2 separate regions of the Homo sapiens genome follow, and region 1 is linked to region 2. The links come from fine-mapping of genetic effects on gene expression. A gene starts in region 2. The other region holds a variant in brackets. All regions are shown on one strand. Distances are from middle to middle. Region 1 overlaps NDRG3 (NDRG family member 3). Region 2 holds the start of NDRG3 (NDRG family member 3).

What was found. PIP is the estimated chance that this variant, and not a neighbour inherited with it, causes the effect. A credible set is the group of variants that fine-mapping cannot tell apart.
Region 1: its variant is the best candidate, but not a certain one, in a credible set for the expression of NDRG3 in sun-exposed skin (GTEx, PIP 0.51).

What each region holds. Positions count from the first base shown.
Region 1 is chr20:36,693,774-36,699,151 of GRCh38, reverse strand. All of the region lies in intron 3 of NDRG3 (NDRG family member 3), which reads left to right. Among named protein-coding and RNA genes, the nearest start is that of NDRG3, 50 kb to the left of the region's middle. RefSeq lists an enhancer at 2,138-2,638. The variant T/G (reference allele first, on the strand shown) is at 2,227.
Region 2 is chr20:36,743,757-36,749,134 of GRCh38, reverse strand. NDRG3 (NDRG family member 3) reads left to right here and starts at 3,045. Exons shown (of 16, transcript NM_032013.4): 1 at 3,045-3,090. RefSeq lists enhancers at 2,792-2,891, 2,616-3,582 and silencers at 3,002-3,201, 3,232-3,421.

The sequences.
Region 1 (5,378 bases), 50 kb after region 2:
AATATGGAGACCCCGTCTCTCCAAGAAATCTAAAAAATAAAAATTAGCCAGGTGTAGCAGTATGCGCCTGTAGTCCTAGCTACTTGGGAGGCTGAGGTGAGAGGATTGCTTGAGCCCAGGAGTTCTATGCTGCAGTGAGCTATGATCACATCACTGCACTCTAGCCTGGGCACTAGAATGAGATCCTGTCTCTAAATATATATGTGTACGTATATGTATGTATACATATATATAAATAAACAGAATCTATAGTGTTGCTTTTTAAAATATTGGCATAAGTGGTATATTTTTAATATATATCCTTTTGCATCTTGCTCTTTTACATTTTTTTGAAGATTTTCTGTGTGTATTAATGCTAATAATTCTAGTTCATTTTTATCTGTATGTCATTATATGAATAAATCGTAATTCATTTATTAATTTCCCCATTGATGAATATTTGGGCTGTTTCCAGTTTTTTTGACATTATAGAGAAGGTTGTGATGTTTACACCCTTGACCAACACAGGTTTGAACTGTATAGGTTCACTTATACATGGCTTTTTTTTCAATACATAAATTGGATTTTTTTTTTTTTAAGAAAGGGTCTTGCTCTGTCACCCAGGCTGGAGTGCAGTGGCAAGAACATGGCTTACTGTAGCTCAAGTGATTTTCCTACCTCAGCCTCCAAGTAACTGGGACCACAGGCATGCACCACCAGGCCTGGCTATTTTTTAAAAATTTTTTGTAGAGACAGGGTCTCACCATGTTGCCCAGGCTGGTCTCAAACTCCTGGGCTCGAGCAGTCCTCCTACCCCAGCCTCCCAAAGTGCTGGGATTACAGGCATGAGCCACCACACACAGTCAGAAAGCTTCCGGAGATTTGTAGCAATATGAAAAAACCCACAGCGGGGCAGGATGGCTCATGCCTATAATCCCAGCACTTTGGGAGGCCAAGGCAGCCAGGTCACCTGAGTTCAGGAGTTTGAGACCAGCCTGGCCAACATGTTGAAATGGTATCTCTACTAAAAATACAAAAAATCAGCCAGGTGTGGTGGCGTGTGCCTGTAGTCCCAGCTACTCAGGAGGCCAAGGCAGGAAAATCACTTGAACCCAGGAAGTGGAAGTTGCAGTGAGCTGAGATCGGGCCACTGCATTCCAGCCTGGGTGACAGAGCAAGACTCTGTCTCAAAAAAAAAAAAAAAAAAAAGAAAAAAGAAAAAAACTCGCAAATTATGTAACCTAGAACTATTGGAAACATTCGGAAAAAGGTATGTCATGATTGTATAAACTATATGTAGACATTAGTCTATTTTATCATTTACTAACATAAAATATACACAAATCTATTACAAAAAGTTAAAATTTATGCACACACTTATAGATCATACATGGCACCATTCATGGTTGAGAGAAATGTAAACAAATGTAAAGATGCAGTATTAAATCTTTTTTTTTTTTTTTTGAGACAGAGTTTTGCTTTTGTTGCCCAGGCTGGAGTGCGATGGCACGGTCTTGGCCCACTGCAACCTCCGCCTCCCGGGTGCAAGCGATTCTTCTGCCTCAACCTCCCAAGTAGCTGGGATTATAGGCACCCGCCACCACGCCTGGCTAATTTTTGTATTTTTTAGTAGAGATGGGGTTTCGCCATACTGGCCAGGCTGGTCTCAAACTCCTGACCTCAGGTGATCCACCAGCCTCAGCCTCCCAAAGTGCTGGGATTACAGGTGTGAGCCACTGCGCCCGGCCCTGAACAGATTTTAATGCAGACAAAAGTGCCCTATTCTTGGGGGGGAAAAAACCTGCCACAAAGGACATATTAGTAAGGAAGAGAAATGAGCACCAGAATTTAAGGCATGAAGGGATGGGCTAACTCTGTTTTGTGTAAATGCGGCCAGGTTTATGATCAGGACTGCCCTATCTTTAAACTTGCAAACCCCTAAGCTTTGAAGGGAAACAAAAAACACCAGCTGCCAGTGTTTTGATTGTACAGCAAGAAGGCCTAGATAATGAGAACACTTTTTCTGGATTGGTTCCATCTACGCTTTGTCTCTGAAGTCACAAAATACCTTGCCAGTGAGAGGCTGCCTTTCAAAGTTCTTTTGATATGGACAATGCCCCTGGCCACCCAGAACCCCAGAACTTCAGTATTGAGTTAAATACTGAAGGTGTCTAAGTGTTCTACTTGCCCTCAAACACAGTATTTCTGATTCTGCCTCTAGATCAGGGGGTCATAAGGACCTTTAAG[T/G]TTCATTATACATGGTACTTTATGGAACAGATTGTCAATGCTGTGGAAGAGAATCCCAATAGATGGAACATCATAAAAGTCCGGAAGGATTACATCATTGAAGATGCCATTGTTGTTATAGAAAAGGCCAGAGGCGGCCGGGCGTGGTGGCTCACGCCTGTAATCCCAGCACTTTGGAAGGCCGAGGTGGGCGGATCACGAGGTCAGGGGATCGAGACCATCCTGGCCAACATGGTGAAACCCCATCTCTACTAAAATACAAAAAATTAGCTAGGCATGGTGGCGCGCGTCTGTAGTCCAGCTACTTGGGAGGCTGAGGCAGGGGAATCACTTGAACCCGGGAGGTGGGGATTTCAGTGAGCCAAGATTGTGCCACTGCACTCCAGCCTGGTGACAGAACAAGACTCCGTCTCAAAAAAAGAAAAAAAAGAAAGAAAAAGCCAGAGGCCACACGCGGTGGCTCACACTTGCAATCCCAGCACTTTGGGAGGCCAAGGCAAGCAGATTGCTTGAGCTTAGAAGTTCAAGGCTAGCCAGGCACAGTGACTCACGCCTGTAATCCCAGCACTTTGGGAGGCCAAGGTGGGTGGATCACCTGAGGTTAGAGTTTGAGACCAGCCCAACCAACATGGTGAAACCCCATCTCTATTAAAAATACAAAATTAGCCAGGTGTGGGGATGCACACCTGTAATCCCAGCTACTTGGGAGGCTGAGGCAGGAGAATCACTTGAACTGGGGAGGCAGAGGTTGCAGTGAGCCGAGATCACACCATTGCATTCCAGCCTGGGCAACAAGAGTGAAACTCCATCTCAAAAAAAAACAAAGTTGAAGGCCAGCCTGGGCTATCGGGGGAATCCCCCAATATTTCAGTGTAGGTTCTTTTCTATTTTCCCTAAGTGTTGGCTGGTCTGAGAAATAAAGGGAAAGAGTACAAAAGAGATAAATTTTAAAGCTGGGTGTCCGGGGGGAGACATCACATGTCGGCAGGTTCCATGATGCCCCCTGAGCCGTAAAACCAGCAAGTTTTTATTAGCGATTTTCAAAGGGGAGGGAGTATACGAATAGGGTGTGGGTCACAGAGATCACATGCTTCAAGGGCAATAAAATATCACAAGGCAAATGGATAGGGCAAGGTCACAAGGGTAGGGCAAGGTCACAAGGCCAGGGCGAAACTAGAATTGTTGATGAAGTTCCATGTCCCGCTGTGCATGCATTGTCATTGATAAACATCTTAACAGGGTTCAAGAGCAGAGAACTGGTCTGACTAGAATTTGCCAGGCTGGAATTTCCTAATCCTAGCAAGCCTGGGGGCGCTGCAGGAGACCAGGACGTGTTTCATCCCTATCTACAACTGCATAAGGCAGACACTCCCACAGCGGCCATTTTAGAGATCCCCCTCCGTCCCCCCAGGAATGCGTTCTTTTCCCAGGGCTGTTAATTATTAATATTCCTTACTGGGGAAAGAATTCAGCGATATTGCTCTTACCTGTTTTTGGCAATAAGAGAAATATGGCTCTGTCCTGCCCAGCTCCCAGGCAGTCAGACCTAATGGTTATCTCCCTTGTTCCCTTGAACATCACTGTTATCCAGTTCTTTTTTCAAGGTGCCCAGATTTCATATTGTTCAAACACACATGCTCTACGAACAATTTGTGCAGTTAACGCAATCATCACAGGGTCCTGAGGCGACATACATCCTCAGCTTACGAAGATGACAGCATTAAGAGATTAAAGTAAGGACAGGCATAGGAAATTATGAGTATTGATTGGGGAAGTGATAAATGTCCATGAAATCTTCACAATTTATGTTCAGAGATTGCAGTAAAGACTGGCATAAGAAATTGTAAAAGTATTAATTTGGAGAACTAACAAATGTCCATGAAATCTTCACAATTTATGTTCTTCTATCACGGCTTCAGCAGGTCCCTCTGTTTGGGGTCCCTGACTTCCTGCAACACTGGGCAATATGGTGAAACCTTGATGCTACAAACAGTACAAAAATTAGCCGAGCATGGTGGCATGCATCTATGGTCCCAGCTACTTGAGAGGCTGAGGTGGGAGAATTGCTTGAGCCTGAGAGGTGGAGAATGCAGTGAGTTGAGATCACGCTACTGTACTCCAGCCTGGGTGACAGAATGAGACCCTGTCTCAAAAAATAAATAAATAAATAAATAAATAAAAGGCCTTGAAAGCCATGAAGCTGAAAACAATAAATTTCTGCTGGAGAAAACTGTGTAGAGATGTTGTATATGACTTCACAGGATTTACAACAGAGCCAATGAAGGATCATTACAGAGATTATGAATATGACCAAAAAAAGGTGGGTCATAGGATGAAGGGTTTCAAGGTATGGATTTTGGAGAAATTTAAGAGCTAGTAGACACCACACCAGAGTAATTAGCAGAAGACAACTTGATGGAGATGAATGCTTCTGAACCAGTGCCAGGCAATGAGGAATATGTAGAAGAAGCAGTGCCAGAAAACAAATTGACATTAGACAGCCTGGCAGAAGGGTTCCAGTTATTCAAGACTGTTTTTCACTTCTTTTATGTCAGGAACTATTCTGTGATACGCACACTTTAACTAAAGTAAACAGTGGAAGAAGGATTGGTACTGTATAGAAACATTTTTAGAAAAATGAGAGTGTAAAAAGTCAGACAAATTACCATGTATTTCTGTAAAGTTACATCAAGTGTGCCTGCCTCCCCTGCCTCCCCTTTCACCTCCTCCACCTCTTCCTTCTTTGCCACCCTTGAGATGGCAAGACCAACCCCTCCTGTTCCTCCTCGTCCTCAGCCTACTCAACAAGATAACAAGGATGAAGACCTTTATGATGATCCACTTCCACTTAATGAATAGTAAATATATTTTCTCTGCCTTACGATTTTCTTAACATTTTCTTTTCTTTAGCTTACTTTATTGTAAGAATACAGTATATCAGTGGTCCTTAACCTTTCTGGCACCAGTGATCGGTTTTGTGGAAGACAATTTTTCCATGTATTTGGGATGGTTTTGGGATGATTCAAGCACATTACATTTATTGTGCACTTTCTATTATTACATTGTAATATATAATGAAATAATCGTGCAACTCACCATAATGTAGAATCTGTTGGAGCCCTGAGCTTGTTTTCCTGCAACTAGATGGTCCC
Region 2 (5,378 bases):
CATGTAACCTAGGTGTTAAAAACCTAACTCTAGCCAGGCATGGTGGCTCATGCCTGTAATCCCAGCACTTTGGGAGGCTGAGGTGGGTGGGTCACCTGAGGTCAGGACCAGCCTGGCCAACATGGTGAAACCCCATCTCTACAAAAATACAAAAATTAGCCAAGCATGATGGCAGGTGCCTGTAATCCCAACTACTCAGGAGGCTGAGGTGGGAGAATTGCTGGAACCCGGGAGGGGGTGAAAGTTGTAGTGAGCCGAGATTGTGCCACTGCATTCCAGTCTGGATGACAGAGCAAGACTCTGTCTCAAAAAGAAAAAACCCCTAACTCTGCCATTTATTAACTGTGACTGAAAAATTTATTTAATCTCTTATCTCGAAGGTTGAGAGAATTATAGAACCTATATCACAGGGATGCTGTAAGAATTAAATAATATAAAAGTTTAGCGGTATCAGTATGCTGCAGGAGGTGAAGCCTGAACAGTGGGTAGATGATGGAGCAATTTGAGATGGGAAAGCTCGTTCTATTTGGAATACCAAATGGAGAAATCAACTGGTCTGTCAAATAACACAGGTGGAGAACTGGGTGGAGAAATCGAGACTGGAAATAACATTTGAGAGTTGCTGATGTCTAGTTCTTGATGACTTGAGAATGAATGATATAGTCCACAGTAGAGCAAGAAGGGAAAGTTTGGATGGTCTCATGGAAATCCAACATTTAAGAATCAGAGCAGAGCGGGACACAGTGGCTCATGCCTATAATCCCAGAACTTTGGGAGGCCTAGGCAGGAGGATTGCTTGAGTCCAAGAGTTCTAGACCAGCCTGAGCAACATGGTGAGACCCTCGTCTATATCTATCTCTATCTGTATCTCAAGAATCAGAGAAATGCTCTTAATTGCCTACTCTTTCATAAACAAAGTAGTACAATGGAGAGAGTTGGAGTGAATTTTCCTTTTTCTTTTTTTTTTTTGAGACGGAGTCTCGCTCTGTTGCCCAAGCTGGAGTGCAGCAGCGCAATCTCGGCTCACTGCAAGCTCTGCCTCCCGGGTTCACACCATTCTCCTGCCTCAGCCTCCCGAGTAGCTGGGATTACAGGCACCCGCCACTACGCCCAGCTAATTTTTGTATTTTTAGTAGAGACGGGGTTTCACCTTGTTAGCCAGGATGGTCTCGATTTCCTGACCTCATGATCTGCCCGCCTCAGCCTCCCAAAGTTCTGGGATTACAGGCGTGAGCCACTGCGCCCGGCCATGAATTTTCATTTTATCCTCAATTTCCTCATCTGTAAAATGGGGACAGATTATCTCTCTAAAGATGATTATACCCTCCCCCTTTTTATTTATTACATTGTATTGCATTTTTTGCTTATAAGGATTTCTTCAAACTCAAGAAGTATGTTTTGTGTCTTCAACAGTAAAATACGATAGAACAAAGAAAAATAATACTTACTGAGCTCTAAGCATTTTACATGCATATTATCATTCAGTCTTTGCCACAACCTTGTAACTTCTATTTCTGGGTGTGTGACATAGATGAGGAATTCGGGCATGGAGAGGTGTGGAGAGACTTAATTGTCTAACCAAGGACATAGGGATAAATAGTGGATGGTGAACTAGAACTAATTTGAATTCAGTAAATGTTAACGAACATAAACCATAAAATAAATGGCTGTGCTCAATTAATGTTAGTTTTCCTTCCAACTAAATTCAGTTCAAGAATTGTGCTTGATGAATAACAATATTATTGCTGCCCTCTGAGATGTTTGGTAATATTCATTTGTTCAGTTTGCCTTAATTAAAAGAATATGCTTTTAGTGGCCGGGCGTGGTGGCTCACACCTGTAATCCCAGCACTTTGGGACGCAGAAGCAGGCGGATTGCTTGAGGTCAGGAGTTTGAGACCAGCTTGGCCAACATGGTGAAACCCCATCTCTACTAAAAAAAAAAAAATACAAAAATTACCCAGGCATGGTGGCGCCCGCCTCTAGTCCCAGCTACTTGGGAGGCTGAGGGACTTGGGAACCTGAGCCGAGATGGCGACACTGGCTCGGGTTAAAAGGGCGTGGTGGCTCACACACCTGTAATCCCAGCACTTTGGGAGGCCGAGGCGGGCAGATGACGAGGTCAAGAGATCGAGACCATCCTGGCCAACACGGTGAAAACCCGTCTCTACTAATAATAGAAAAATTAGCCAGGCCCGGTGGCACACGCCTACAGTGCCAGCTACTCGGGAGGCTGAGGCAGGAGAATCGCTTGAACCCAGGAGGCAGAGGTTGCAGTGAGCCGAGATCGCGCTAGTGCACTCCAGCCTGGCGACAGAGTGAGACTCCGTCTCAAAAAACAAAACAAAACAAAACAAAAAAACTTTTAGTCAGTGGTACTTAATGGTAAAGAAATAATAGATAATAAATAGAGGAAGAGTGTGTCCTGTACATTTTGGTGTTAAATTGTTGGGTCATTAAGTTTAATATCTGCAATCATTCTGGGAAAAAAAATTCCATCTCTAATGTTGCATTCAAGAAAGTAGATGATTTGGCTGACGGTTGTAATAGGGGTGATACAATGGAGGACTGGTAATTCGGAGCCCTGAGTCTTGGACTCTAGTTCTTAAATTACTATGTTCATTCACCAAAAATTTACTAAGCTCTTTCCACGTGCCGAGCACTGTGCTAGGCGCCCTGTGACCTTGGGTATGGCTCTAGGTCACCTTAAAAGGAGGATGCCATACCCTGCAAGAGCTCTTAGGGGCTTCATAAGGATGCGACTCAGGGAACTGAGGGAAGCGCTCCAGACGCAGAGCTCAATGGCCCTGCCGCCCAGCGCCTCCAAAATCTGAGATTCTTCTCTGAGGAAACTCCGCAGCAAGAAAAACTACATCAAAGATGGCGCCGCCGGCCTCTCCTGGCTCAGCCACCATCTTCTCGGTAGTTCCCGAGGTGGACGGGCACAGCACTCATGCGCCGCCCTGGCGTCCTCGGCGCGCCTGCGCGGACCGCAGCACCTCCCCCGCCCCTCTCGCCGCCGCCGCCGCCGCCGCCGCCGCCGCCGCCGCCGCCGCTGCTGCTGCACTGACGGCGGGTGCCCGCGCCTCAGGTGAGTGAGCGCCTCCGCCCGGCCCGCGGGGGGCGCGCGGCGCCGCATTCGGGGGCGTCGCTCCTTTGCCCTGCTCCTTCCCCGCATCATCTCCGCGGCACGGCGAGGCCCTGGTGGCCCGTGCTGCTTGCCTCCCCCGTGCCCCCGGGGCCCTCTGCCCCGCCCCGCCCGCCCGCCGGACCCAGGTCAGCCCGGCTTTCCTCGGCCGCTCCCCGCGCCCAGCCCGCCGGCGACAGCGTGTGGGTAGCAAGAGAGCCTCCCTCCGGGCTCAACACCCTGGGTCACAGGGACGCCCCCCGCAGGCGCGAACCCTTCTCTCGCTCTGGCTCTGCAGGCGGCAGAGCTTGGTGGGCCTTGGGGTTGCTCATCCATCTACCTCGCCCGCTCCAAGAGCCCAGATGCTTGGAAGAGGGGCCGTGAGCAGCCCTTGCACCCGTCCGGCCCCAGAGCAGCAGAGGGCATCCTCTAACGGGACCCTACGACTACCCTACCGGGGAGAGGCTTCTTAGCCCCACTTAACAGCCGAGGAAACTGAGGCACGGAAAGGTGAAGTGCCATGCCCAAGGTCACGCAGCTGACAAGTGGCAGGGTCAGCTCTCAACTCAGGGTCTCGGGCTCTCAGGCCAGTGCGGTTGGAATTTGATCTCGTACCTTTGAAAAAATTTTGAAATCACTTGTCATCTCTGAAGTTGCTCTCGAACGTCGTAAAAGTAGGCTGCACAAAAAAGATTTTCTTGTTGTCGGAGTACAATTGAGGTGTTACTGTAATAATAATAGTGTTATTAATATAAGAGCTAACGTTCTTCCACCGCTCGCTGTGTGCCAGGGATCTTGCTAAGCATTTTATTAAGATAACCTCGCATAACCACCTCTGCACTTCCCAATCCAAATGCTTCCCCCTTCCTTGTCATGAAGCCCTTTTTTTCTTCCTGCAGAGCTGGCCTCCCTATCACAGGTAGACTAGGAGCCCCGTGGATTAGGAAGCAGGGAAGCTTTCCTTTGGTGGCTTACTGACAGAACAAGAGTGATCCTTGCCTGCTGGCATCCAGATCACCCCCGCCGCGCCCCCCCCCCCCCTTACCCTGGCCCTCAGGGGATATTATTAGCCTTCCTTTCCTGCCAAGAGAGCAGGACTGGGCTGACTGGGCTAGCTGGGCGGGCTGGACTTGGAGGTGACAGAGCAGATTTGGCTAGCACTCACCTCATTCCGGGGCTTTCTGTCCGAGGCTTTCTGCCTTTGCCCCAAGGTTGGGCTTGAACATTTCAGTATTTAAGATAAAGCAAGAAGAGAAAGAGAACATTGATAGAGTGGTGCTGAATTTAAGAAGCCTCCCATGATTTAAAGTTCCAAATGAACAGCTATAAAAATATGTGAATGTTTCTCCCCCAAAATAACTAGCTCAAACTGTCGTTTTTCTCCCTTAGCAAATCCTCCTCCACATTTCAAAGGCTCCACTAAATCACCACCTTCTCTGTGAAGCCTTCCCTGCTTGATTTTCCCAATTAGAATTACACGTTCACAAAACAGGGTCTTAGCCTCAGTCTTACCCTGCGGACTTCTAGCCCCTTGAGGGCATGGTCCATCTTTGCAGCTCCAGATGCCTGGCTCACAGTAGATCCTTGGTAAGGACTCAGTTAATTTCCACCCCCCCTTTTCATTACTCAAAGCGTGGTGTTCTTCTGGTGCCCTTCTGTTCCTCCTTCCTGCCCTTCAGTTTCTCTTTGCTTGTCTCTTCCTTCAGATTAAACTTGTCATCACCATTTACCACTCAAAGGCCTCCATCCACCCTGTTGTTTTTGAAAACTTGCAGATAAGAGTCTTGCATCAAAAAGCCTGTTTATGGACCGGGCGCTGCGGCTCACGCCTGTAATCCCAGCACTTTGGGAGGCCGAGGTGGGTGGATCACGAGTTCGGGAGATGGAGACCATCCTGGCTAATACGGGGAAACCCCGTCTGTACTAAAAAATAACAGAAAATTAGCCGCGTGTGGTGGTGGGCGCCTGTAGTCCCAGCTACTCGGGAGGCTGAGGCAGGAGAATGGCGTGAACCCGGGAGCTGGAGCTTGCAGTGAGCCGAGATCGCGCCACTGCACTCCAGCCTGGGCAACAGAGCTCCGTCTCAAAAAAAAAAAAAAAAAAAAAGCTTGTTTATGTTACTTGAACGTGCACTCACGATTGAGCTGCTTTTGTTTTTTGTTTGTTTTTTGTTTGTTTTTGTTTGTTTTTTGAGACGGAGTCTCGCTCTGTTGCCCAGGCTGGAGTACAGTGGCGCCATCTCGGCTCACTGC